Homo sapiens: one gene and its partners. The protein of the gene in region 3 purifies or fractionates together with the protein of the main gene of each other region. This does not show direct contact. Each region holds a gene or a part of one and is shown on either strand. Other genes may lie near its edges.

Region 1 (3,500 bases), on a different chromosome or scaffold from region 3:
TATATGTAGCTATTACAGGGGAGAAAAGTCTTAGGATGCAGGACTTAAAATAACATGTGTTGATTCAGTATCCTTAAAACACTTCAATGAGAATCAGCATTGAAGTTTCCAAGGGACTAGCAAATCCACATGATTGACGAAAGACAAACAGGGAAAAGGAACAATAGGTGTATAACTATTAGTCACCTAACTTAAAATAAAGGCAATTTAAGTTAAAGAGTCTGGACTTCAGATAATTGCTATATTAGGCAGGACAGAATCCCACACTCTTACCGCAATATAGTAAAATAGTAATAGTAATAGAGGCACCATTTGCAATGGGGCACGTATCTCCCTCAAATGGAACAAAGAAAAGGTGACAAAATGAATGTTTTCATCTTTAGAATTCCAAAGAAATATTTAAAAAGAGGTAAAATGTGGAGTAAAGTATGTTGGATGGATAACAATGTAGTAGGAATTTACTGAACTCAGATTATGAAAAAAAGAACAATTTTGCTTGGAATAAGGACTTCTATGCTCTTTCATAATTATCTGAGCATTTTGCTGATGTGAAGCAATATTATCTTGCCAAAATCCAAATCTGTGTATGCTCAGGATCTTCCAGCAGTTGATTCTATTATGGAGATAATTTCCTTTTCTTTGTAAAATCAGGCTGAAATCATAGTTTCAAAGGGTCATGTTCTGCATATTTTGTTTCTGGAATATATCAGCAGCATATTGATTCATTACAATGGGGAACAATTCATTCTTTTTCACAAGCATGGTAAACAGGAAAATAGAATGAATTTGTTGACATTTACGGAGGGAAAGTATTTGATCATGAGCAACAGACGTCAAGAAATTTGCAAAAATAAATAAAAGCACTAGCTATTCTTTGTGTTGATCACACAAGGGGCAGTTTATAAAAATTCATCAAGCTATACATTTAATCTAATGTGTACATATCGGTACATACTTTATATTTCAATGAAAAGTTTAAAATAAATAAATAATAAATTCTGGAAAAAATAATTTGTCCAATTCTGATCCCATGTTAGAGATCAAACTACTATGAATCGTCAGTGAGAAATGAACAAACTCCTGGAGATTGGCTCCAGGACCTCTGGATGGTATCAATATCCACAGATGCTCAAGTCCCTTATATAGAATGGCATAGTATTTGCATATAACCTATGCACATCCTCTCACGTACTTTAAGTCGTCTCTACATTATGTATAATACTCAATACAATGCAAATGTATGTAAATAGTTGTCATACTGTATTGTGTCTCATTTGTATTATTTTGTATTGTATTGTCATTGTGTTTTTTTCTGAATATTATCTACCCGAGGTTGGTTAAATCCACAGATGAGGAACTCAAGGATTTGGAGGATCAATTGTATTCCTAAAAGTGTTATTTACTAGAACTAATATTTTTCTCTCATTATTATTCTCATAGCAGGGAAGAGTTTTCTCCAATCTCTATCATTAGAAGATATTAGTTGCTCTGTGATGTTAAAGGAAAAAACCACATATTGGCAGAAATAAAGTGTGGAAGGAGCACTGTTACTTAAGTATTTATGTAAGTTATTGATCTTAGAATAATTTTCAATGTTTTTAATAACGTCTATGAATTTAGTTGAATTATTTAATGAATAATCATTCATGTATCTAACATCAAGTTCTAAACATACATGCTTATTTAATTAAAATATTTTAAAATTTGAACTGTATAATCTGTCTCAAGTATTTTGCCTTCTCATTATTCCAAAAAAAATCCAATTTCTTTCTTCTACTTCCAGCAATGTATGCTTCTGAGAAAATCTGATAACTGAAGTACAATTATGGCAGATCACCTGAGGTGATCACCTGAGGTCAGGAGTTTGAGACAACCCTGGGCAACGTGGTAAAACTCTGTCTCTACTAAAAATACAAAAATTAGCTGGGTGTGGCAGCTCACACCTGTAGTCCTAGCTACTCAGAAGGCTGAAGCAGGAGAATTGCTTGACCTGGGAGGCGAAGGTTGCAGTGAGCCGAGATTGCGCCACTGCACTCCAGCCTGGGGAACAAAGCAAGACTCTGTCTCAAAAATAAATAAATATAATAAAATAAAAATTGGATCATAAACATTGCTATAAAAATAAGTGGAATCATGACTAAAAAACATAAGCATTTACTTCATTTCTGAACTCAATCTAAGTACGATAATAATGGATAAAGTATTTAGACAGCCAACTAAAATTATGTAATATATGTCTTTAAAATGCCACTTAAGCAAGTTTAAATTTTTTCCTTAATAATTTTGAATATAATGATATTCTAAAAGCAATACTGAGTATTTTTTATTACCTGGTTTTCATAACATGTGTAAAGAATAATGGAAATTTCACAAGTACATTAAATCTACTTTCCCAGCTTCTTAGTAAATATGCATTTTCTACAAAAGGAATAATATGGAATAATGTAAAATGTTCATTGGGGAAAGTCAGCCTAGAATGACTCAAAAAGGTTTTAGGATGAAAATTACATGTGTGAAGGAGTAAATTAACTTTAGGTTTCCCCAAGTCATCTGATTGGTAATATGACTACATTATCTGATAGGTAATACAATTTCACACACTTCAAACCTTTTCGGCCACTTTTCTTCTGCCCTTATCTGCTTAACCTCTAGAAATTATCATTGGTATTGGTTCCTCACCTGCTGATTTCTGGCAAACGAAATTTTAAATATAAAACAACCCCTGCAAACTGCTCCGCCAAGTAAAGTAATTCATACTTTGTGTCAAGGTTCAAGGGAAGGCACACTGAAACAACCTGGAATAAAAGAAACCAAATAAACAACAAGAAAATCAAAATGCACAGGTTATTGCTTAATGTTTGTGTGAGGTCATGCATTTTTGTTTGGTTACTAATGTATCATCTGTAATACACTAAAATAATTAAGAATATTTTTGGTAATAATAAATACATATCTTCCATTTCCTTGTATAGTCTATCTATCAGTATAACCTCCAAGAATACATGTGTTTTAAAGCCTCGTTCAATGTGCATGGCTTTCGATCTTTGTCTTTAATACTTCCTTTGCAAATTTTCGTCCTAAACACAAACTCTTTCTTCAAGAACCAATATATATTTCTTTAATTAACAGTCAGGTATATTATCTCCCATGAATTATGTCTGAAAATTATTTTTATTTGAAGTCAGAAATAGGTGTAAGAATTAATGTACCAATAAACAGCACCTCATTCATTCACTCATTCATTTATTAAGCAAAAGTTTTCTGAGCAAGAATGTGCTATCTAGATAGTAAAGGGAATACTGGAAAACATGAAGGAAATAAATATAAATTCAGATCTCATAGTCTCCAAGGAATTTACAAGAACATTATTTAAAGTCATCACATATGGTATCAAGTATTTTTTTTCTACGAGTGAAAACAAACATTAAAATGAAAAGCTTTTAACATACAAATTATTGAACACATATGAGGATATTTTGAGGAGAATTACGTACATAGCA
Region 2 (4,095 bases), on a different chromosome or scaffold from region 3:
CACCCCTGGCTGCAAGTGCCTCAAGGACAGCCTGGAAGAGCCTGTGGGGGAGGGAGGGTGGCATTCAGCACAGGATACACACAGGAGCCCCAGGCTGTCCTCTGCCCACCGTCCCCACCCCAGCTCTAGCTCTGCCAGGGAGGCCCAGGCAGGGAGGTGAGCCCCTCCGGAGCAGCCTAATTGCCACTGTCACAGCTCAAGTGTGTCGCCGTGGGAATGGGCTATTTCTAAGCACGGCAGGTACCGTCTTCCCCTTCCCCCGCCAACACAGCTGGCCCAGGACAAGAAGGTGCAGAGACAAACAGGGGGCACCCTGCCTGTCCTGCTAGGAACTGCAAGGCAGCGTGCCGCACACGCTGCCTGGGCCAATGCCACCCAGGCCAGGAGAGGGTTTGGGGCCAGACACCAGCCCATACCCAAGGGTCCCAGGGGATGTGGGGAGAAGGGGAATCCACCTTTTCCTTCCCTCCCACCTCCCAAATAACACACAGACAGCTCTGTTGGTCTGAGAATGATGGACATTTAGACACTGGCGCCAGGTTTGCGCCTGACCGGCGCCACGCAGGGGTGGGCGGAGCAAAGACACACAGGTGGGCTACAGGTGTCACACGGCACCAGCCAGGGCCCGGGGTGGCTGGGGTGAGGATGGGTGTTTGGCCAGTGACCAGGAGTCAGGTCAAGTCCAGGTGGTCAGTGCCAGGGGCTCCAGGAGGGGAGGGCAGTGCCATAACCCTCCTGGTGTCCAGCGTCACCAGGCGGTCGTCACAGAAAGCAACCTCGGCCCGGGGCCCGGGTCTGCAGCAGGTGGGCAGGGTCAGCTTTTCTTCCATGGCGGGTGGCATTGTCTGGGCCGGATACTGGCTCTCGACCCCTGGGCATGCAAAGGCTAGGGGTGGTGCTGTCAGTCACACCGTTGCCACCAAGGTCCCCTGGGTCGGCTGAGGCTTGGGATCCAGGCAGCGGTGGAAGGTCGGGCTGCTCAAGGCCGGTATCTAAGCTTCTGCCCTGGGACCCAGTGGTGATGGCCGCCATCTGCCCCATTCCCACAGGGACCTAGTCAGAGGTCGCACACACAAAAGGGGTACCTGGCCCTGGAGAACCACCAGCTGCCCGGGGTCTGAGAACACTCACCCTGGCCGCTGGGCCAGGCCTGCCAGGCTCCCGGCTGGTCCAACACCCTAAACGGTACAGAGCGCTGCAGGCCCTCACCTCATGCTTCTGCAGCGCTTGAGGGTGAAGGTGTCTCCAAGGGGACGCTGGCCAGATGCATGGAGAGGCCGGCCAATCTTAGGGCCACAGACCCCCCCTGGACAGCAGAGGGTGTTGGCTCCTGCAGTGGGCCCGAGATACTAAGGCACGAAGCTAACCTAAGCCCAGTGGGGTGGGGCGGGGCAGGACAGGCTTGGAGAGCTGCGCCCCAGGCCTGCAAAGCACAGTGACCGAGCAATGGCGACGGTCTGTCTGGGACAATTCGGCACAGGATGGAGGTGCGGGGTGAGCCGGAGTGCCCATGGCTCTTGCTGGAAGGGGCTCCATGCCCTGGCCGCCTCTATAAAGGCCTGCGGAGAGCGGGGAGAGCCCTGGATGCGGCTGGCACAGCAGCGCAAGCCCAGGGGCCAATCCGGGGCCAGAGTCTGGGAGTCTGACGCCCGGCTGGAAAGGGCGTGTGATGATGCCAAAGTGCCGGAGCCGTCGCCGGCAGGTCCTCCTCCGCGGGGATCTTAAGGAGGCAGCAGGAATGAGGAGAGGAGAGCGGGCGGAGGACCTGGGAGCTCAGGCGCCCTCAGGCAGGTGGCGCAAAGATGGGCGGGCGGCCTCGCGCTTCAGGGGTGTCTGCGCAGGCCGGGGCGCGCGAGGGCCGGGCGCATGAGGTTCTCGGTGATGTAGGCCACCAGCAGGCAGATGACCACCAGCATGACGCAGATGGAGCCGCCCACCGCCGTCATGGCCACCACGATGTCCTGCATGCCGGCCGGCTCGGCGGTGAACTCCACGCACTCGGCCGGCTCGGGGGTCTCTGGCGCGGCGGCGGCGGGCCCAGCGCGCAGCGGCAGCGGCTGCAGGCACAGGCGGTAGAGGACGCTGTCGTGCACGTCGGGCAGCAGGTAGTCGCGGCAGGAGGCCCCGAGGAGCACGCGCTCGCACGGGAAGCGCGTGTAGGCGCCGCGCCACGAGCAGTTGAGCGCGAAGGCGCGCACGCGGCGCGCGGCGGCCGGGGCCAGGCGCCACTGCAGGAGGACGCTGCGGTTGCGCAGGACGCTGGCGCGCAGGGAGCGGCCGGCCGGGGCGTGCAGCACGCAGCCCGGAGCCTGGCAGCGGAAGCCGCGCGCGGGGCTGCGGAAGCACAGGCGCCCGCCGCCCGCCTCGGGGCCCTCGGGCAGCACCTTGTAGGGGCACCAGGGCGCGTCGGGGGTCGGCTCCCAGCCCGGCGGCGTCGGGGCGGCCGCGGCGCAGGGCGGCGGCGCGCAGGCGGCCAGCAGCAGCAGCAGCGGCGGGGCGCGCATCCTGCGGCGGGGCCACGGGGCGCGGCGCTGGGTCACGCGGGCCGCGCCGCCGCCGTCCCCGCTGCCCGCTCCCCGCGATCCCCGGCGCGCCGCGCCCTCCGCCGCCGCCCGCTCCGACCCGCCCCCGCGCCCCGTGCGCGCTCGGACCCGGCGCGGCGGCGGAGGCGGGGCCGCCCCTCGCCCCGCCCCCCTTAACCCTCGCCGGGCCGCGGCCTACGGGTGCGGGGGATCGGGGGTGGGGGGGAGGAGGGGGACGCAGCGAGGCGGCCGGAGTGCCGGTGGGGCTGGGGTGCGGGCAGGGGCGCGGGGTGCGGGCAGGGCCGCCGCTCTCCCGGCTTCCCGCCTAGTGAGCGCACCTTGGACCCCTGCGGCTTTTCCGAGCCGAAACTCACGGGCTGTGGCCGGCTTCGTTTCGCGTCGTGCAGCTCCGCGACCGCCCGTGGCCACACCAGTCGGGGACTTCGTGCTTTACGATGGGGGCGCAGCGGTCTGGCACGCGCAGGACCCCGGGCCTTGCACCCCAACGCTGGCCGCCCTGGACCCGCGGCGGGGACCCGCGCAGTCAGGGTACCTGCCCATACCGATGGGGTGGGGACCAGCACGGAGACTTTCCTTCACCCCGCGGCTTCTGTTCCTTTCAGGACGGACAGCGCCCACCCGGAGGAAAGCCTGACAGATGAGACTTCGCAAGGTGAGAACTCCCTTCGCTCCACACGCAGCGGAGGCAGCTGCAGGGCGCCGACCTTCCCTGCCTCATTGCGCCCCCTCCTCCTCCAGATGCGCTCTGGGGGGCCCTCCCGATGGCTGTGGGGAGGTCAGGGCTGGACAAAGGGAATCCAAAAAGCCCACCCGGTGCACTGAGTAGGTGGCACCGACGGGGGAGGGGAAGGCGGGACACACCCCAAGACCCCTGCCCCTCATTCCCGTCCCTGCATAGATCACCCAGCAACCAGGACACCCCTCCAGGGCCAGGACTACAGCCAGGGACTGTGTATGCAGACGTGGCCGGGCCTGGCCGGCCTGCCCTAACTGGAAAGGAGGCCAAGCCTCGCACCTAAGGCTGGGCTGGCACCTCCGCTGAGCCAGCTCTGGGTCTGCAGGGGTTGTGGGGGGCTCTCTGGCAACTGGACCATGAGTTCCTGCAACCCCTTCCTGTGCTCTCCTTGCCTGGGGGCAGAGTGAGGAGAGACTGGCTATTCTGCTCACGGTGTCCTTGGTCCCCGACCTCTGGATGGCCATGTCTCCGCCCCCCCACGGAGTCACCACCCAGCCTCACGAATTCCTGGTCATCTTGAAAAACCCAGTGCAGTGGTCAGGACCCCACAGGATCTCAGGGGCTCTGCCAGAGCCCCGGCCCAGCGGTCAGGCCCCCACCAACTGTGGTCACGGTGCACCTCCGTCCCCGGCATGGAGGGCCCTGACCCCCTACACCAGCCTGTTGGGCCCCTGGCAGGGTCTGCTGAGGCCTCTGCACCTGGCGCAGAGAGGTTGGGGGCAGAGACCTTGGGAGAGGCGCTCCCTGCCCCCTGCCCCCAGCTCCCACCTCTGCTTAGGAAGGGCAAACCCTGGGCTCTGACTCTTGCCCCAGCGT
Region 3 (3,500 bases):
AGGGTACACAGTCCCCAGAGAAGGTTGCATTGAGCAGGCCTGTTGTTCCTTCATTCTGTCACTCATTCATTCAATCAAGATCAAATGCCTGCTCTATGGCTAGATGAGAGGTATTTCAGTGTCTTAATAATAATACCAATAGTACTATAAAAATGAAGAAGTGGGAGAAGAGCAGAGATGACAGCAGAGAGGAAGAGAAGAGGGGGAAGAGGGAGAGGATCAAGAAGATAACAGAGCATCTGACTTCATGCCAGCACCCCTGGGACGGACTCTAGGGGACTCTCGGGAGTGGTAGCCATTGCAGTGGGATTGCCACCTGTGGAGCCTTTCCTACCACTGGACGCTGATACAGATTTCCCAAGGCCACTGAGCAACCCTCAAAAAGCTGCCTCCTTCACCCGGGAGTGAGGTTCAGCCTTGTGTTTCTGGAAAGTGCACATGCTGAGGCCCTGAGTTTTCCTGGATTTCTGTCCGACTCTTGGCATGGCCCACCTTTATCTGGGGGAACCTATCTAAAGAGGCTTTGTCTGAGGAAAGCTCCACATGTAACCTGGGCCGCCTGGTAATAACAGAACAACCTGAACAGTACAAGCGGTGGGAAGCGCTGGCTCCACGCAGCCCCATGCGATATGCGTGTGGGAAACCCCAGGCTCTGTGCAGCCCTATGCATCATGCCTGTGGGAAACCCCGGGCTCTGTGCAGCCCTATGCATCATGCGTGTGGGAAACCCCGGGCTCTGCTCATCCCTATGCATCATGCATGTGGGAAACCCCGGGCTCTGCTCATCCCTATGCATCATGCATGTGGGAAGCCCCAGGCTCCCCTCATCCCTATGCATCATGCGTGTGGGAAACCCCGGGACCAGCTCATCCCTATGCGTCATGCGTGTGGGAAACCCCGGGACCAGCTCATCCCTATGCGTCATGCGTGTCGGAAACCCCGGGACCAGCTCATCCCTATGCGTCATGCGTGTGGGAAACCCCGGGACCAGCTCATCCCTATGCGTCATGAGTGTGGGAAGCGCCGGGCTCCGCGCAGCCCCATGCGTTATGCATGTGGACACCATGGCCTTTGGAAGACGGCCTGTAGGCGCCCCCCACTCCAAGAGACTGGTCCCTCGAGAGGACAGAAAGCGCAGCCAGAGGGGTGGCCGGCGCCCCTTCCCCGTAGGCAGGAGGAAGGGCCTCACCAGTAGTAGAGCAGGAAGAGGAAGGTGGGCAGGGAGACTGCCAGCTGCAGCCAGCGCCAGTGAGGCAGGGCGTAGGCCAGCCCGGTAAGCGCCACCAGCCCCACCGTGAAGGCCATCTGGTACATGATCGCCACCGTTCTTCTGGAGCCCGAGCCAACAAATTCTGTGACTGAAACAGGAGGTGTGGACGTTATGCGGGTTCCTTGCAGGAGCCCAGGAGCCCGACGCCGTGCGTTCAGAAGCTCGGGGCCCCAGTCCAGCTTGTCTCCCCGCGGGAAGCTCCCACCCGGCCTTGCCCAGCCTCACCTGCTCCCAGGCTTCTCTCTTGTGTGTCTCCCATTTCTCCTTCCCGCAAACCACAGCCGCGCTCACGCCTCCCCTTCTCTCTGGGGCCCCGGACCCATCAAACCGGGGCCCCGGACCCATCAAACCAAGGCCCCGGAGATCCACCAGGCTGCTTGGCTCTCTGGCTTTTCCCTGACCGTCGCTTTCCGCGTCTGCTCCTTTACCATCTGCACTCCCCTCTGCCTGCTTCAGGACTCAGTCCACTGGCCTCTCCTCCCCAACGCCTTCCTCGAGAAGCTCCAGACTCAGCTGGAATATTTGTCAGGACCCCAGGGGTGTTCATTCATTTAGCAAATATCTTTGAGTGCCTCCTGGGGACCTGGTACTGTGCGGGGTGTCTGAGGCACATCGTTAAGCATAGGAGGTAGAGTCCTGCCCTGGGAGACCTCATTTGGCAGACGCTCCACATCACAGATAAGAGAATGCAATCCTATGTTAGAGCGTGATACGTGTAACGGGAACAAAAATGAAAAGGGGAAAAGGAAGTCAGGGGAGTCGTGGGTGGAGGGGCTGCGGGTGGTGTTGGAGCGTGGATGTGGCCCCGGGTCAGACCCCCCAAACCATGTGTGGGACGGTGCCTAGCAGCAGAGGCTGTCACAGGCTCCACACGCATGGGGCTGAGCCAGCTCAGCTTCACCAGGCTGCTCATGGCTTCTCAAGGCGGGAACGTGGATCCTCTTGGCCCTAGTGAATGAGTTCTCAGAATGCCAAGTGATAGCACCTTGTTTTCAAAGATGAAAAGACAGGCTATTTCTTTTTTCTCCCCCACAAATGAGTAAAAGTGTGGCTCATCCTCACTGCTGGCTGCCGTGCCCTGGCCTGGGGAAGTACAGATGACTCTTAGGCTGCATTCCTCCCGGAAAGGGTTTTTTGTTTTGTATTCTTAACCTTAGAATATTTGAAAGGGAAAAAAAGGCTGATATGTAAAACTCCTCATGTTGGTTTATACTTCAACTTTTTCAAAATCCTGATTTTCACAATCCTTATTTTATTTGCTCCTGTTTTCTTTCCTAATTCTTGAGTGCCATTCAAGCCCGTCAAGTTTGCTGTATTTATTTTAAGGAGTTGCTGGTTCTTTCTTATGTAAAATGCTAGAATATTCTCTCACTTATCTCCTCTTCTGCACCCCATCCTGACTGCTGTGAGCACATCAGCATGGGGTCTTTTTGTTCCCCAAATAGATTAGTTGATTAATAGGTCAGTAATCTAAGTGATAATTTAAGTGTCTCAGACACAAAAAGAGAGGAGGCCATTCTAGCCCATGTCCTGCCCTAGTCACATAAATACAAGGAACTGGTGCCCCGCAAGCTCCTTGACCCCACAAACAACCCCCTACCCACGTTAGGCCCATCCCATTCTACCCTGAGACCTGGCCTCATCCCCATGATAATTACTTAGGGTGTAGCCAGCCATCCAGTTGCCCTTGCTGACCAGGCCCTGCAGCAGGCGGAAGAGCAGCATGGACATGTAGTTGGGCGAGAAGGCCATGAGCACGCCCGACACCGCGTTGACCAGCACAGTTCCCAGGAGACACAGCTTACGGCCAAACCTTCAGAGAGAAGGAGACATGGAGGGCAGGTGGGAGAGGTTGAAATCTGGGGTCAGACATGCATGGTGGGATGCCAAGGGTCACAGTCGGAGGCCACCGCACCACTGTCCTGGGAGACTGCAGGGTCTATCAGGACAGCAGTGCCCAGTGCACCGCCCAGCCTGCTCATCTGTCCCAACAAGCTCCGCAGCCCTTCCGGGTCTGAAGAGGAGTCTGAGCGCTCCCAGCAGCATCACAGCTCAGCCGGGCAGTGCCCGCAGACCCTCTCCAGTTCACGCCTGTCCCCTTGCCTTATCTTCATATTTAGCAGATGGCATCATTATTATCGCCACTGGTCAGGCTGCACCCAAACCAGGCTTCCTTCCTCCCATAGTCTTATCAACCATCATGGAAGCTTTTCAGTGCCATATTCAGCTC
Region 4 (3,500 bases), on a different chromosome or scaffold from region 3:
AGCCTCGACCTCCCAGGCTCAAGGGATCCTCCCACTTCAGCCTCTGGAGTAGCAAAGACTACAGGCACATGCCACCATGCCTGGCTTTTTTTGTTGTTTTTTGTTGTTGTTGTTGTTGTTTTGTTTTTTTTGTTTTTTTTTTAGAGACAGGGTCTCACTATGTTGTCCAGGCTGGTCTCAAACTCCTGGGCTCAAGCAATCTTCCCACCTTGGCCTCCCAAAGTGCTGGGATTATAGGCGTGAGCTGCAGTGCCCGGCCATCACTTGTCTTTTTAACTGGGTTATGATGTCTTACACTTTCCAGAAGATTTTTTAAAATATATACTTAGATTTTTAAAATATATTCTTAAGTTATTTTTGTGTATGATGAGAGATGGAGACTTATTACTTTCTAAATACACAGCCACCTGTCTTTACTCAATTTCCATTTTCAACATTACACTTAGAACACTTAAAAGAACTAAAGTGTCAACTGCTTCGTTATAAAAAAGGAAGTTGTACAAACAAAATAATAAACCAACAGTCTAAGCTCAGTTTGATAGGCTCTTACTACTATGTACTTAAAGATCACATAGCAGTTTCAGGAGCAAAAACACTACCATGCCTGGCTCTCTTATTACCGCTACAGCTCACAACAGGGTCTCCAAAAGACATCATAGACTGCATAGAAGTCTATCTGCAGCTTACTGATTGCCACACATGTAAATTCACATTCACATTTAAATAACCCACACTTAACAACAAAATCAACCGTCTCAACTCTCTATGCATTCCTTATTGCTGCTCCTAGACCACAGTGCTTTGGAGACTTAGTAAAGAAAATGAATGCACTCTCCTGAATCACAATATCACCTGGAAATGTAACCAGAAGGTATAAAAAGTCAGGGTAGTTTGTTAAATTGTGTGTGTGTGTGTGTGTGTGTGTGTGTGTGTGTGTGTGTGTGTGTGTGTGTAATCAACAATTTATAAGGTTACCTTATCTCTGGGGTCAGCACTTTTTCTGTAAAGGTCCAGAGAGAAAATTGGCTTCACGGGACATAAGGGCTCTGTTTCAGCTCTGATGTTGTATTGTGAATGCGGCCAGAAAACACATAAATTAATGGATGTGGCTATATTCCAAGAGAAGTTTATTTACAAAAACCGGTGGTGGGCAGGATTTGGCCACAGGCAGTATTTTGCCAGCCCCTGCCTTATACCAATGTTTTATCTTTTTCAAATAACAATCTACTTCCCTCACTGCACACATATTTGAGTAAATATAGTAACACTGAAGGGACAAATAATTTCAGTACTGCCTTACAGAAATGAATATTCTCAAAATTAATCACTAACCTTTTCCTATAATTCCTTCTCATATGAGCACATACATTTTTCAAAATATAAAACTGTAAACATCACCTTGAACCTAATATTTATTTCAAAAGACAGTTACAATGAGTGTCATGTAGCTGCTATAAAAGGAAAAATGCAGTCTAGACAGTCAAATACAATGATCTTTTATTCATTATTCTCATAATCAACAGTGAGTAGAAAAGTCTGCTAAATACATGGTCATGAATCATAACTTCACTACTCAAAATGCAGAAGTAGACTTTCAAAGTACATTTAAATAAGAACACAAATTTGTTTTTTGGATTACTTACCAAAATCCTTGATGGAAAATGATACAGTTTTGCCAAAATATTTTTAATTTAGAAAGTGAAACCAAAAACCTCTTTAGCATATCATGCGTCTATTTAATTTTAAAATACAAATTTTAATGTTGCATTTGACAGCCTGGTGAGGTAGACATTATATTTTTAAGGCAGCCATTTTAATATAGTGAGAGCATGTGTGAATATGTATTAACATTCTAAGCCATTAAGGCCACTTGTTCACAGAATATATTTGAGCTCTAAAATTGTTGAAAGAGAAAATGCTCAAATAGCTTACAGAAATAATGGATGTTATACAGAACAGAAAGGAATCAAATTAAATAACAAAAGTTTGTAAGATTTCTTGACACCAAAAGCACAGTCCATAGAGGAAAAATTAATAAACTGGACCTCATCCAAATTAAAGCCTTTTGCTCTGTGAAATTCCCTGTGAAGAGGTTGGAAAGACAAGCTACAGACTGGGAGAACATATTTTCATACCACTACCTGACAAATGATTAGTATTAAGAATAAAAAGGCCAGGGGCGGTGGCTCACGCCTGTAATCCCAGCACTTTGGGAGGCCGAGGCGGGTGGATCATGAGGTCAGGAGATCGAGACCACCCTGGCTAACACGGTGAAACCCTGTCTCTACTAAAAATACAAAAAAAAAAAAAAATTAGCCAGGTGTGGTGGCGGGTGCCTGTAGTCCCAGATACTTGGGAGGCTGAGGCAGGAGAATGGCGTGAATCTGGGAGGCAGAGCTTGCAGTGAGATTGCACCACTGCACTCCAGCCTGGGCAACAGAGCGAGACTCCGTCTCAAAAAAATAATAAAAAACTCTTAAAACTCACCAGGTTAAAAAAAAAATCCAAATAGAAAATGGACAAAAGACATGAACTGATATTTCACTGAAGATACAGAGAATGGCAAATAAACACATGGAAAAATGATCAACATCATTGGCGATCAGAAAAATGCAAATTAAAACTAGGAGGATATATTACTACACACCTATGAGAATGGCTAAAATAAAAAATAGTAACAGCACCAAATGCTGTCAAGGATGAGGAGCATTCACACATTCCTGGTGGGAATGTAAAATGGTACAGCCACTCTGGAAAATGGTTTGGCAGTTCCTTAGAAAACTAAACATGCAAGTGCTATACCACCCAAGAAGTACACTCTCAGGCATTTCAGAAATTTATGTTCACACAAAATCCTGTGGACAACTGTTCATATGAGCTTTATTCAAAATAGGCAATAAATAAATAAATAAATAAGTAAAACAAACAAAAACCCTGGAAACATCAGATGCCCTTCAAGAGGTGACTGGTTAAACAAACTGCAGTAAATCCATATTATGGAATACTACTCAGCAATGGAAAGGAACAAGCCATTGATAAAAGGTATATTCCTTGCACTAATCTCCAAGGAATTATGCTGAGTGAAGTAAAGTCAGTCTCCAAAGGTTATATACTGTGTGATTCATTTATATAAGCATTTTTGAAATGACAAAATTATAGACATGAAAAACAGATCAGTGGTTGCCAGGAGTCAGGGATGAAGGGAGATGGCTACATCTATAAAAAGACAACAAAAAGGATCCTTGTGGTGATGCAATTGTTCTGTATCTTGACTGTGGTAGTGCTTATATAAATCTACACGTGATAACATTATGTAGAACTAAATACATACATGCAAATGACTGCATTAAAGGTGACGAAATCTGAGTAAGGTTGATGGATTGCATCGATTTCAATTTTGTAGTTGTGATGTTACACTATACTTATGCATGAGGCTATTATTGGGGGAAATTAGATAAAGCGTATTATTTCTTACAACTATATGTGAATCTACAACTATC
Region 5 (3,500 bases), on a different chromosome or scaffold from region 3:
GGAGAATGGCGTGAACCCAGGAGGTGGAGCTTGCAGTGAGCCTAGATCGCGCCACTGCACTCCAGCCTTGGTGACAGAGCGACACTCCGTTTCACAAAAAAAAAAAAAAAAAAAAAGTCCGGGCACAGTGGCTCACGCCTGTAATCCCAGCACTTTGGGAGGCCAAGGCGGGCGGATCACGAGGTCAGGAGATCGAGACCATCCTGGCTAACACGGTGAAACCCCATCTCTACTAAACATACAAAAAATTAGCTGGGCGTGGCGGCGGGCGCCTGTAGTCCCAGCTACTTGGGAGGCTGAGGCAGGAGAATGGCGTGAACCTGAGAGGTGGAGCTTGCAGTGAGCCCAGATGGTGCCACTGCACTCCAGCCTGGGTGACAGAGTGAGACTCCGTCTCAAAAAAAAAAAAAAAAACAAAACTAACGTTAGGCAAATTGAACCAAATCATGAACACCAAAAGCACTGTACTTCAGGTGAGTAGATTTGGGCCAATACCAAATCATTACTTGTTGCTCAGTAAACAAAACCAAAGGTGATTAACCAATTAATCAATTTAAAATAGCACCAAACTTTTCTAAAATGGCCTAAACAGACAAAACTTTGACAGCACTTGTGTCTCAACCAAAGCTGAATTCCATTCATGTTACATTTGGTTGAAGTCCCCCTCCCCTTATCATCACATAAAGCCTGAAGCGCCCATGGAATTGCATATCCTTGGTCACCTCCCTCTGCTTCTCTAGTCCTCTCTCCCCTTCCTAAGTCATCAGCTCTCACCTTGAAGCCTGTGGGACACCAGTCTACAAACTGGATGGTCCTCTTGGTCTTGATGGCAGCAATAGCGACATTCACATCCTTGGGCACCACGTCGCCCCGGTAGAGCATGCAGCAGGCCATGTACTTGCCATGTCTCGGGTCGCACTTCACCATCTGGCTGTTGGGCTCAAAGCAGGAGCTGGTTATCTCGGCCACAGAGAGCTGTTCGTGATAGGCTTTCTCGGCAGAGATGATGGGCGCGTAGGTGACCAGCGGGAAGTGGATGCGGGGGTAGGGCACCAGGTTGGTCTGGAACTCAGTGAGGTCCACATTGAGGGCCCCGTCAAAGCGGAGAGAAGCAGTGATTGAGGACACAATCTGACTGATGAGGCGGTTGAGGTTGGTATAGGTAGGGCGCTCAATGTCAAGGTTCCTGCGGCAGATGTCATAGATGGCTTCGTTGTCCACCATGAAAGCACAATCTGAATGTTCCAGTGTGGTGTGGGTGGTCAGGATGGAGTTGTAGGGCTCCACCACTGCAGTAGAGACCTGGGGGGCTGGGTAGATGGCAAACTCCAGCTTGGATTTCTTGCCATAATCCAGGGAGAGGCGTTCCATCAGCAGAGAAGTGAAGCCGGAGCCAGTGCCCCCACCAAAACTGTGGAAAATCAGGAAGCCCTGCAGGCCAGAGCAAGCATCTGTCTAGGGAGAGCAGGACATGAGAAGAAATCATGAAGACAAGTTTCCGAGAACACCCCACAGTAAAAAAGCCAGACCGCCCACTCTGTCTGCCTCATATTTTTTTGTGGATGAAATCAAAACAGCTTTGAAGAAGTAAGGAAACAAAAGGAGTTGTATTGATCTTTGGAGGAGTGGCTAAAATATGGGATGGGGCCAGGCACAGTGACTCAATGCCTGTAATCCCAGCAGTTTGGGAAGCTGAGGCAGGAGGATCCATTGAGGCCAGGAGTTCACAACCAGCATGGGCAACATAGTGAGACCTCGCATCTACAAAAAATTTTAAAAGTTAACTGGGCGTGGTGATGCACACCTGTAGTCCCAGTTACTTGGGATGCTGAGGTGGGAGGATCACTTGAGCCCAGGAGCTCATGGCTGCAGAAATCTATGATCACACCACTGCACTCTGGCTTGGATGACAGAGCAAGTCTCTGTCTCTATTTTTTTTAATAGGATGACAAGCTGCAGGGGCACACGCCTCTAGGTACATGAAGGTTTCAGCCCAGTAACTTGGTTGAACAGGGAATGAGAGTTTCAGAACCACAGTGGATGGTGACTTTGCCCTTTGAGGGCCCCAACTCCTTGCCCACTTTCCCTGCTCTTGTCATTTGATTTTGTGGGAACTGCTGCCGACACACTTCAACCCAACCTTGGAAGGTGACTCAGGGCACCAATTTCAGAAAGGTACATGGAGCCAGAAAGCCTGAGTTCTAATATCAACTTTGCCATTTCTTGGTTGTAAGAACTTGAGCAAGTTACTGAACCTCTCCAAACTTCTGTTCCTTTTTTTTTTTTTTTTTTTTTGAGACAGAGTCTCGCTCTGTCGCCAGGCTGGAGTGCAGTGGTGCAATCTTGGTTCACTGCAAACTCCGCCTTCTGGGTTCAAGCAATTCTCCTGCCACAGCCTCCTGAGTAGCTGGGACTACAGGCGCATGCTACCATGCCCAGCTAATTTTTTGTATTTTTAGTAAAGATGGGGTTTTAACATGTTGGCCAGGATGATCTCAATCTCTTGACCCCGTGATCCACCCCCCTCAGCCTCCCAAAGTGCTGGGATTACAGGCATGCGCCACCATGCCTGGCCACTTCTGTTCCTTCTTAGTGAAAATGGGGACAATAGAAAATCCTCATAAGGTTATTGTGACAATTAAATAAAATAGCATAACATGCTGAGCAAGGGCCTGATACGTTGTAAGCACGGATGTCAGCTCTCACCAGAGAATTCATAGAATCACAGGATTTTCCCACTGGGTGTGATTTGAACTTTTGGGGACCACAGACAGCTTTGAGGCCAATGACCCTGACAAGCCCTCCTCTAAACAGAAAAAGTGAATATATGCAAAAGTTTGGCACCCTTACCTCCCAGGGAAAGAACATGTGATCAGGTCCAAGCTTTTCCATTATACAGATAAGCAAATGGAAGCTTAAATAAATAAAGTGACACAACCTACAACTCAAGAGCTTTGTAGTCCAACTGAGTTCAAACCCCAGCTCTGCCACTTTTTAGCTGTGTGACCCAGGCTAAGATATTGAACCACCCTGGCCCTCAATTTCTTCATCTGTAAAGCACAGGAAGGACACCTCCTAAGTCTAATTATTAAGGATTAAATGAAGGAATGTGCTTAACATCTGTAATGGCACTTGTAAGTGCCCAAATGTATCAACAATCTCTTCCTCTCCTCTTCCAAGTTAAATGCTTTGTTAACCTGTGTTTCCGACCAGCAGAGACCTCATCCTGCCTTATACCCGGAACCTTCCCCAGATACTAACAGAGAGTATCAATGAGTATGAGTAGGGCCTCAGCCTGGAACACAGTCTATGATGCCAACACAGAGGAAGGGGCATCACCCCTGTGCATGCTTCTTACAGAATTTAAGCAGAAATTCCCAAACCTTAGGAGCTCCATCCTATAGCCAGGGGTCAGATGCCTCTCCCTAGCCTGATCAAAGAGGCATGGGGCCAAGCCTGTCCACTCCAGCCTGACCCACCCGTCCCCTGCCCTCCTGATC
Region 6 (3,500 bases), on a different chromosome or scaffold from region 3:
AACTCAAGCAAAACAGAGGAGGGGTAGCTGAGCACACTGCCCGCACAAAGGGCTTTCTTCTTCTGCCCAGGCCTCCAGAGGCCTCATCCAGCACCAACAGCTCCTCCACAGCCTGGGGCCTCCTCCCCCCTCACCTTGACCCCATACCAGGTTCCTCCAGGGATGCCATCCACTTACAGATACTTCATCCATGGGAACCTGTTACCTTGCCACCTGAACCCCAGTGATGAACCCTCCTGGGGTAACCCCCAAATGCAGAAACATTCATCGAGCCTTCTCTCCATTGCCCCGCCCCAGGGCCATCCCCAGGCATACCTGGATCCAGGGGTTATCGTCATTGCTGCTGGGTGTCCAGGCATTGACCATGCCTGCGCGGTTCAGGCGGGCCAGCTCCGGGACCCAATGCTGCAAACCCAAGAAGGTCACACGCACAGACGAGGCGGCGATCTGTGAGTTGGCAATGTTCCCATTCTCCAGGCCCAGTGGCTCGACACATTCTGAGGGAAGGGAGGTGGCAGTCAGGTGGCTACCCCAGCAGGTTCCCGGGCCCAGCTGGGACCCAGCGGACAAGAAAATAAGACTGTATGACCTCTGCCTAAGCCCCAGGGCCAGGGAGAACCTCAGAGCCTCTCTCAGAACAAAGACCACAAAGGGACAATGAAGGCAGTGCCCAGGACGAGGTGCCAAGAAAAGGTATGTGGCCAGGGGTGGTGAGGATGAGGGGGGTGGGCAGAGTCACGGGAGGCTGGGACCCAGGGCTGCCAGAGGATCCCAGCCAGGGTAGCACTGTGGGGACAGCCATGATTGGCACTCATGGAAAGTAGAGTCCCCCCCGCCAGGCTGTGGGAGGTGGCCTCGTTCATATAGGGCATCTGGCAGCAATCAGTCTGGTGCAGGGGTTAGACTGGTGGCACAGAATACCGGTGTGACCCCCTCTTCCTCAGTGTCCCCTCCCCCCACCAGGAAGGGACGCCATCCTCAGCCCAGCCCCTGGCTTCCTCAGGAGGGTGGCTTTGGGAGAAGGGCTACCTCGGATAGCAGTGAACAGTACCAGCACTGTACACAAAGAAAGAAGCTAATCTGCCTGGAGTTTTCTAGAATCCCACTGGCAGGAGTTCTCTGGGTGGGGCACAAATGCCATTCTGCTTTCCCTCTTTACGCCTTCCACCTGTGGGCCCTCACCCAGCCATCTGTGAACATGCCCGTGGCCAAGGCCCCACCCCCCTCACCATCACTCCAGCAGTGTGGTCCCAGGAACCCAGGACAGCTACCAGGCCCACCTACAGGCCAAGCTTCTCTCATCACCTGGGGATCCCCCCAGCGTGTGCCTGGGCCTTCCAGCTGCCAAGCAGAGAACCCACAGACAGATCTAGTCTTCCTCCAACATCACAGGCGCGGACGAGCTCAGTGTTAGCGCACTCTGGCAGGGAGGGGAACGCGCAAAGTGAGGCCAGAGCCTCAAGACCAGAGCTCGGCCAGTGGCTGAGCTGAGATTTGACCCCAGTCTGCCTCCAAGACTATCCCCATACCCCACCACGCTCACACCCTGAAGGAGTCCAGTGTGCATTCTTTGGGCCCGCAGGGTCCTTGTTGGCTCCAAGGAAACATACCACGTAAAAGGCAAGGAAGAGCTGCGAAGGTCCCTCTGAGGGCTTCCTCCGCTGTGTGGTCACCCCTGCCTTCTTCCTGGGTGCAGCCATATCCAGCCTGGGGAAGATCCCAGGCCCAGAAGCTAGAAGTCAAGGTGGGTAATTCCCACTCAGGCACACTCACTGTTACCTCAGCTCCCAGGATACTTGTTAGTGGCTCCACCTGGCCCTACCCAGGGCTCTGATTGCCTTAGCAACCCGTCCGCCAAACCATACACACACCCTTCCACCAGGATCTCAAACACATCTGGCCTCAGGGCAGGGTCCAAGGCACAGGCCCCAGGGCCACTTGGGAGGTAAAAGGCATCCTACTCACTTGACCTGCTCTCTCCCAGGGCCCCTGCTGCCACCCAGCTGGCTCAAGCCCCCCGCCCCCTCCTTCTGGAGGCCAGCAAACCTCAGAACCCATCCCCACATCTCCCTGAGGAGGGCAAGATGTCCCCTGTCCCCTACCCAAGATGCTCAGCGATTGACCTGCTGGATTCAGAAACCTAGGACCCCCCGCTCCACCCATCCCTGGGCCCACATGTGGGCAACCCGCCTGCCCCATGAGGAGTCCTAGTGGGGTGGGAGCACTAAGTGGGAGGGACTCCAGCTGGGCCTGGAGGGAGGACAGCAGGGGAACTGCTGTTGCCACCCCACCTAGGGCCATTCTGTGGCCGAGTGGATAACCAGGCAGGTCACACGCGGACAGCCCCTCTGGGCATGCAAGGCCTCTGACCACCTGACCGCGTGGGGATGGTTCAGCTGGCCCAGGCCTCTCCCTTCTCCCCGAGCTCTGCGATGAGGCTGCAGGTCAAACTTGGGCCAGGAACTGTCAGACTCTGAAACCAAGGCTGATTTACTGAGTTCCTGGGCCTCAAAAGACCAAGAATGTGTTTGTTTTCCCCTCTTAGGTAGAAAAATCCTTGCAACTTAACCCTAATGCTGTGTGTCTGGCTCATGGTGACTCAAGAAACAGCACTCCCGTGACCTCCAGGGTGACCACAACCCCTCACTCCTCTGCATCAGCATCAGGCCTGGCCGGCAGTCTCAGGAAAGAGGGCCAGGCAGAAAGAAGGAAGAAACAACAGGACCCTTTTCCCCCCTCGGTCTAACTGAGGCTCTGTCTCTCTCTCTGAGTCTCCCCAGAGGAGGCCTTGACACCTCCACTGGGGTGGGGATCACAGGCAGAGAATAAGGCCAGCATATGGCCTATGCCACCAGGGCTGTGGCTCAGGGTCTACTGCTAGAAACAGGCAACAAGCACCCCCACATACTCACTCGTCTCACAGTGGTTGCCCGCGTAGCCCTTAAGGCACGTGCAGGTGTACGAGGGGAAGACATCTCCTCGCACTTCTTGGGAAATCTCCTCGCATAAACCACCGTTGTGGCAGGGGTTTTTGGAACAGATATCTGGGGACAGAGACAGGTAAGATGAGCAGATGATCAGGAAGGAGCTGGGGACACAGGTGAGAAGTAGCAGATGGGTCCAGCCCAAAAGGACCCTCCACTCAAACTCGCCCATTATCTCTTCCTCTCCCTCTTCCCCCGTGTGCTGGATGGAGCCTGAGTCCGCCTAGAGCCAAGGAAGTCCATGTGTAGGCGAATCGGCCCACATAAGGGAAGCGCCCAGCTTTCCAAGTGGCCTGGGAGTGTCCAGAAAAGTGCTGGCTGACAATGGCAGTGGTGCTGGGGACCACTGCCCACTGGTGGAAGAGCTGGCAGCTGGGGTCTGGAGAGGCAGGCAAGGTCCAGGGCAGGTCTCTTGGCAGCAGTTTGATTGCAAAGGAGGCCCATGAGGACTTTCAGGCAGGGGCAGTGGAAGGAAGCATTGTTCTGGCCCATTGAGCAGGTTCCGCCCACCAATTC
Region 7 (4,268 bases), on a different chromosome or scaffold from region 3:
CATACGTGCAACTGGGTTCCTTTTCCTTATTTAAAACTCTTTACTCACTCTTTATCTTACCTGACACTCAGCCCTCCTGCTTCTATCCTGAAGTCAGTGTCTGTAGTCTCAGACACAGGAAGGGAAGAAAGCCTTGAGAGACAAGAACAACCTAGGGGAGTCAGCCAAGTACAGACTCTCCATCAGAGTGGCTGAACTAAATCCATCAAAAATGATCCTCAGAATTGTCCAGTGTCCTTTTTTCAGGCCATATGCAATTGTATAATAAAATTACTTTTAATTACCTAGCCTCTTAAAAAAAAGAAAGTGGCCTCATTGCCTTTCTAGATTTATTTGTCATGTACCTATTGGTTATGAATTAACATATCTAGATTGTTTTTTCATAGATTGAGTGAAAATATAATTTTATGATCTTAAACTGGCTTTTATATATGGCTGCTCCCTCTCTTAAGAACTAAGACCTGCTGCCATTGCAAAGGGGAATTGGATAAAATTTTGAAGTCTCTAAGGGGTGGCAAATCACAGTTTAAGTGCTTAGAGCAGCATGAGGTTTACTGGGTGCTTGGGAAGGAGAATTGTACAAAATGATGTCAGATTGCTCAAGACTTACATTTTTGCCTGTTTTGGGCTTGGATCTTGTGAAAGGAGAAAGGCCTTTCTTATTTCTTTAGTTTCCTTAGTTCTCACTATTCAGAATTCAGGTAAGTGCTGTTAATAGAAGAAGCTCATTTGGATAAAAGAGGCTTATGTGGACAATTCTGTGGACCTAACAACAATTTATAATCTTGTTTCATGAAAACCTCCCACAACTGACCCACTGGATGATTTGTGGATCACAGTCTGTTTTTAAGTTGAGGACTTATTGCTGTGTCTTAGATTTGAGTCTAGAAGCCAGAACATTGCATTTGTCTCAAGCCGGTGTCTCTGTGGAGGTCAAGTTCTGTCCACATGGCATTGAGTTCACTGGCTAACCTACGATCATTCACCATCATCAGAAAGCATTTGGTAAACATGCATGCTTAACTGGGTTAAAATTAAACAGTCAGAGTATAAAGTAAGCAAGTTCTCAGCCCATGCTCTCCTAGCAGTTAAAATCTAAAACTTTAGATTAGGAGCCAGATAGTGACCTATGATAGTCCAAACTACTCCCAGCAACTCCAGTTTGTTGTTTCTTTATGTGTAGTCCAAAGAAGGAAAAGCATGCAGAGTTCTTATACCCAGGCAGGCACCCTGGAGAGAGTTCAAAGATTTACAGGCTCTGAATGAAGGAATGCTGCTTACATAGGCACTTCTGGTTGAATGCAACTTATGATTTTGTTATTTTATTCGGAATCTGTTTTGGAATATAAATGATTATAAATGCTGGAAATATAGTGCTTTGAATGAAAATACAACTTGTTAGACCGGGCACGGTGGCTCACGCCTGTAATCCCAGCACTTTGGGAGGCTGAGGCAGGCAGATCACCTGGGGTTGGGAGTTCGAGACCAGCCTGGCAAACATGGAAAAACCCTGTCTCTATTAAAAATACAAAATTAGCCGGGCCTGTTGGTGCATGCCTGTAATCCCAGCTACTCAGGAGGCTGAGACAGGAGAATCACTTGAACTCGGGAAGTGGAGGTTGCGGTGAGCCAAGATTGTGCCATTGCACTCCAGCCTGGACAACAAGAGCAAAACTCTGTCTCAAAAAAAAAAAAAAAAAAAAAAGAAAATATAACTTGTTAAACATAGATAGGGTTATATTTGAACAATGATTTATCTTTTTTGAATAATCATTTATCTTTAAGAAATTTACCCACACATATACAGTACCCTTACCATTTCTTCTGTGTATATTTTAAATTTTCCTGTGGTTTTCTAGTAAGACATAGGTAGACGAAAAACCAGTATTTTGTTTTCCTTAAGGAATAATATAGAGAAATAATCCTAGTTTTAATAATCCTTGTTTCAATCCAGTTTTTGTTTGTTTGTTTGTTTGTTTTTGAGACGAAGTTTTGCTCTTGTTGCCCAGGCTGGAGTGCAATGGCGTGATCTCGGCTCACTGCAACCTCCACCTCCCGGGTTCAAGCGATTCTCCTGCCTCAGCCTTCCAAGTAGCTGGGATTATAGGCATACACCACCATGCCCAGCTAATTTTGTATTTTTAGTAGAGACAGGGTTTCACTATGTTGGCCAGGCTGGTCTCGAACTCCTGATCTCAGGTGATCCACCCACCTTGGCCTCCCAAAGTGCTGGGATTACAGATGTGAGCCACTGTGCCTGGCCAATCCAAATATTTAATACACCACCCCTTAACTTCTAAAGAAACTGAGTTGGGGATATTGTTACTTATTTTAACCAAACATCAGAGAGATTGTTCCTTCCTCAAAGTAATGTGTATTTGGCAAGTGGTAGGGCAGAAACTGAAACCTGGGTCTTCCTGTTTCCAAATCCAGTGTTCTTTCCCTTATTTCATCCCAGCTGCCTAAGCGTCATGGTATCATGCAGCATGTAATTATTAAGTTAACTCTTTTAAATCACCGCTGTAAAGTATCTTTTATGTATTTGTCTTTCTGTTTGCAGGGATGGAGGACTAAAGAGAGCAAAGGTGAAGGACATCTTTAAGGAAGAGCAGCAGAAAAATTACAGCAAGATGATTGTGGGCAATGGATCTCTCAGCTAAGAGGACGGATGACAGCCTTTAGATCTAGAACTAGCCCTTAGAAATGGAATGGCTTTTTTTGTTTTGTTTTGTTTTATTGTTTTGTTTTTATTATTGTTAATCTTTTCTACAGAATGATTGTCTCTACCTCTTTATGCCAGAGGCAGAACCTACAGGTGCCCTTTTTGGCTTTTGTTGTTGTTGTAACATTAGCCCCATGGATTGTAAGGTGGTTTACTGAGTTAAAACAGATTCTGCTTTTGTAAAATGATGGCATCACTGTGGACTGAATGAAATATTTGTATAGAAAAAAGTGCTTGAAAAGTGTGTTTGGAACTCATCGATAGGGTAATTCTCCAAAAATGCCCAAACTCTTTTTCTGTAATTAGCCTTGCCACTTTCTTCAGTCACTTAAATGGTGAGATTACACATCAGTGCAAGATGACCATTATGGTTATGGTCTACTGCAAGGTTGAAAGGAAAAATGGAGGATTGTATTTAGGAAAAGGGACAACTTTGTGGCCACCTGCTCTGAAAGTCAAAAGGAAATGTAAATTAGTGTCATTAGTGTGTTGGAAGAGAAATACTATTCAGTAAGCTTCGCCAAAGAAAAGTGAGTCAAAGTTAATGTGTGTGCGCATTTATATGTAGGCAGCTCGTAGACCACATTTTAACCAGCAACTGGTAACAAAGAGCTTAGTTTTCCTTGTTTGAATGCTGTAGATCTGTACCTAGTACCCCTCCCATCTACTGATTTGTTTGTTTTTGTAACCAAACACATTTTCAGATAGAAGGAGCCTTAAAAAAAAAAAATCACATTGAGTAACTTCAGTATGAATGAATGAGAGTGTGTGGAGCTACCCCTCACCCTCCACCCCTTTGTGCTTTTTATTCCCGAATTTTCCCAGTCTCTTAAACAGAAAAATGACTGATATAATTATCTTTTGGAAACTGAGCCTTAATTTTTTTTAGAGGGGGAAATAAGTTTTCCCCAACTCACACAGCATAAGCAATGTTTGACAGCAATATAATGCCGTTGTAAACTACTGAGAGTATTGTATCTGTTCTGGTAACCATGTACAGAATGTGAAACTGTCTTATGAATATAAATAAATTCTATATTTCTAAATGTGTGTTGCATTATTCCCCCTTCCCTTCCCCCCTTTTCTGGTTTTGAGTAAGTTAAATTCTTTCCTATTACAAACAAGGGTTGTTTGTTTTTCATTTCAGTGACATAGTTAGATTTTATTGGACTGGAACAAATGGGAAACAAGAACATGAGCCACTGATTCTCCCCCTCCCCTCCCGCCGCTTAAATCTTTTTTTCAGTCTAGTCATTTGGACTCTGGCCCTGTGAACTCCACCTTGAGCAATGTCACAGACTACAGTTATTTTGCAGGTGAATTAAGGCAATTATATCTAACTATCTAGGTAGGCCTGGCATAGCACTATCAGTATATACTCTTCTTATCTATCTAGCTAGTTGGATTTCATCCCAAAAGAAAACTTGCAAATAGGTTACTCTCATGGCCATCCACCTCTCTGTTCTCACTCTCCCCACTTTCCCTTTGTTGTTTGGTGAAATTTTGCCCCACAAACTCTATTAGGAGTGGTCTTGACTGAAAATTA

Evidence for each region.
Region 1: the proteins of SLC22A1 (region 3) and PROS1 purify together in Homo sapiens (affinity purification with mass spectrometry; one large-scale study listed by BioGRID and IntAct). This does not show direct contact.
Region 2: the proteins of SLC22A1 (region 3) and FNDC10 purify together in Homo sapiens (affinity purification with mass spectrometry; one large-scale study listed by BioGRID and IntAct). This does not show direct contact.
Region 4: the proteins of SLC22A1 (region 3) and ACSL4 purify together in Homo sapiens (affinity purification with mass spectrometry; one large-scale study listed by BioGRID and IntAct). This does not show direct contact.
Region 5: the proteins of SLC22A1 (region 3) and TUBA8 purify together in Homo sapiens (affinity purification with mass spectrometry; one large-scale study listed by BioGRID and IntAct). This does not show direct contact.
Region 6: the proteins of SLC22A1 (region 3) and MFGE8 purify together in Homo sapiens (affinity purification with mass spectrometry; one large-scale study listed by BioGRID and IntAct). This does not show direct contact.
Region 7: the proteins of SLC22A1 (region 3) and GPAT3 purify together in Homo sapiens (affinity purification with mass spectrometry; one large-scale study listed by BioGRID and IntAct). This does not show direct contact.

Annotation. Positions count from the first base shown.
Region 1 is NC_000003.12:93,893,897-93,897,396, forward strand, and holds part of PROS1 (vitamin K-dependent protein S isoform 2 preproprotein), read right to left. Parts: intron 2,796-3,500; coding exon 2,680-2,795; intron 1-2,679. UniProt on the Homo sapiens protein: Anticoagulant plasma protein; it is a cofactor to activated protein C in the degradation of coagulation factors Va and VIIIa. It helps to prevent coagulation and stimulating fibrinolysis.
Region 2 is NC_000001.11:1,597,512-1,601,606, forward strand, and holds FNDC10 (fibronectin type III domain-containing protein 10 precursor), read right to left. Parts: upstream 2,625-4,095; 5' UTR 2,505-2,624; coding exon 1,824-2,504; 3' UTR 501-1,823; downstream 1-500.
Region 3 is NC_000006.12:160,131,815-160,135,314, reverse strand, and holds part of SLC22A1 (solute carrier family 22 member 1), read right to left. Parts: intron 3,084-3,500; coding exon 2,929-3,083; intron 1,359-2,928; coding exon 1,190-1,358; intron 1-1,189. UniProt on the Homo sapiens protein: Electrogenic voltage-dependent transporter that mediates the transport of a variety of organic cations such as endogenous bioactive amines, cationic drugs and xenobiotics. Functions as a pH- and Na(+)-independent, bidirectional transporter.
Region 4 is NC_000023.11:109,726,758-109,730,257, forward strand, and holds part of ACSL4 (long-chain-fatty-acid--CoA ligase 4), read right to left. Parts: intron 1-3,500. UniProt on the Homo sapiens protein: Catalyzes the conversion of long-chain fatty acids to their active form acyl-CoA for both synthesis of cellular lipids, and degradation via beta-oxidation. Preferentially activates arachidonate and eicosapentaenoate as substrates.
Region 5 is NC_000022.11:18,124,309-18,127,808, reverse strand, and holds part of TUBA8 (tubulin alpha-8 chain), read right to left. Parts: intron 1,456-3,500; coding exon 775-1,455; intron 1-774.
Region 6 is NC_000015.10:88,906,880-88,910,379, forward strand, and holds part of MFGE8 (lactadherin isoform a preproprotein), read right to left. Parts: intron 3,045-3,500; coding exon 2,913-3,044; intron 498-2,912; coding exon 316-497; intron 1-315.
Region 7 is NC_000004.12:83,602,108-83,606,375, forward strand, and holds the end of GPAT3 (glycerol-3-phosphate acyltransferase 3), read left to right. Parts: intron 1-2,560; coding exon 2,561-2,660; 3' UTR 2,661-3,768; downstream 3,769-4,268. UniProt on the Homo sapiens protein: Converts glycerol-3-phosphate to 1-acyl-sn-glycerol-3-phosphate (lysophosphatidic acid or LPA) by incorporating an acyl moiety at the sn-1 position of the glycerol backbone.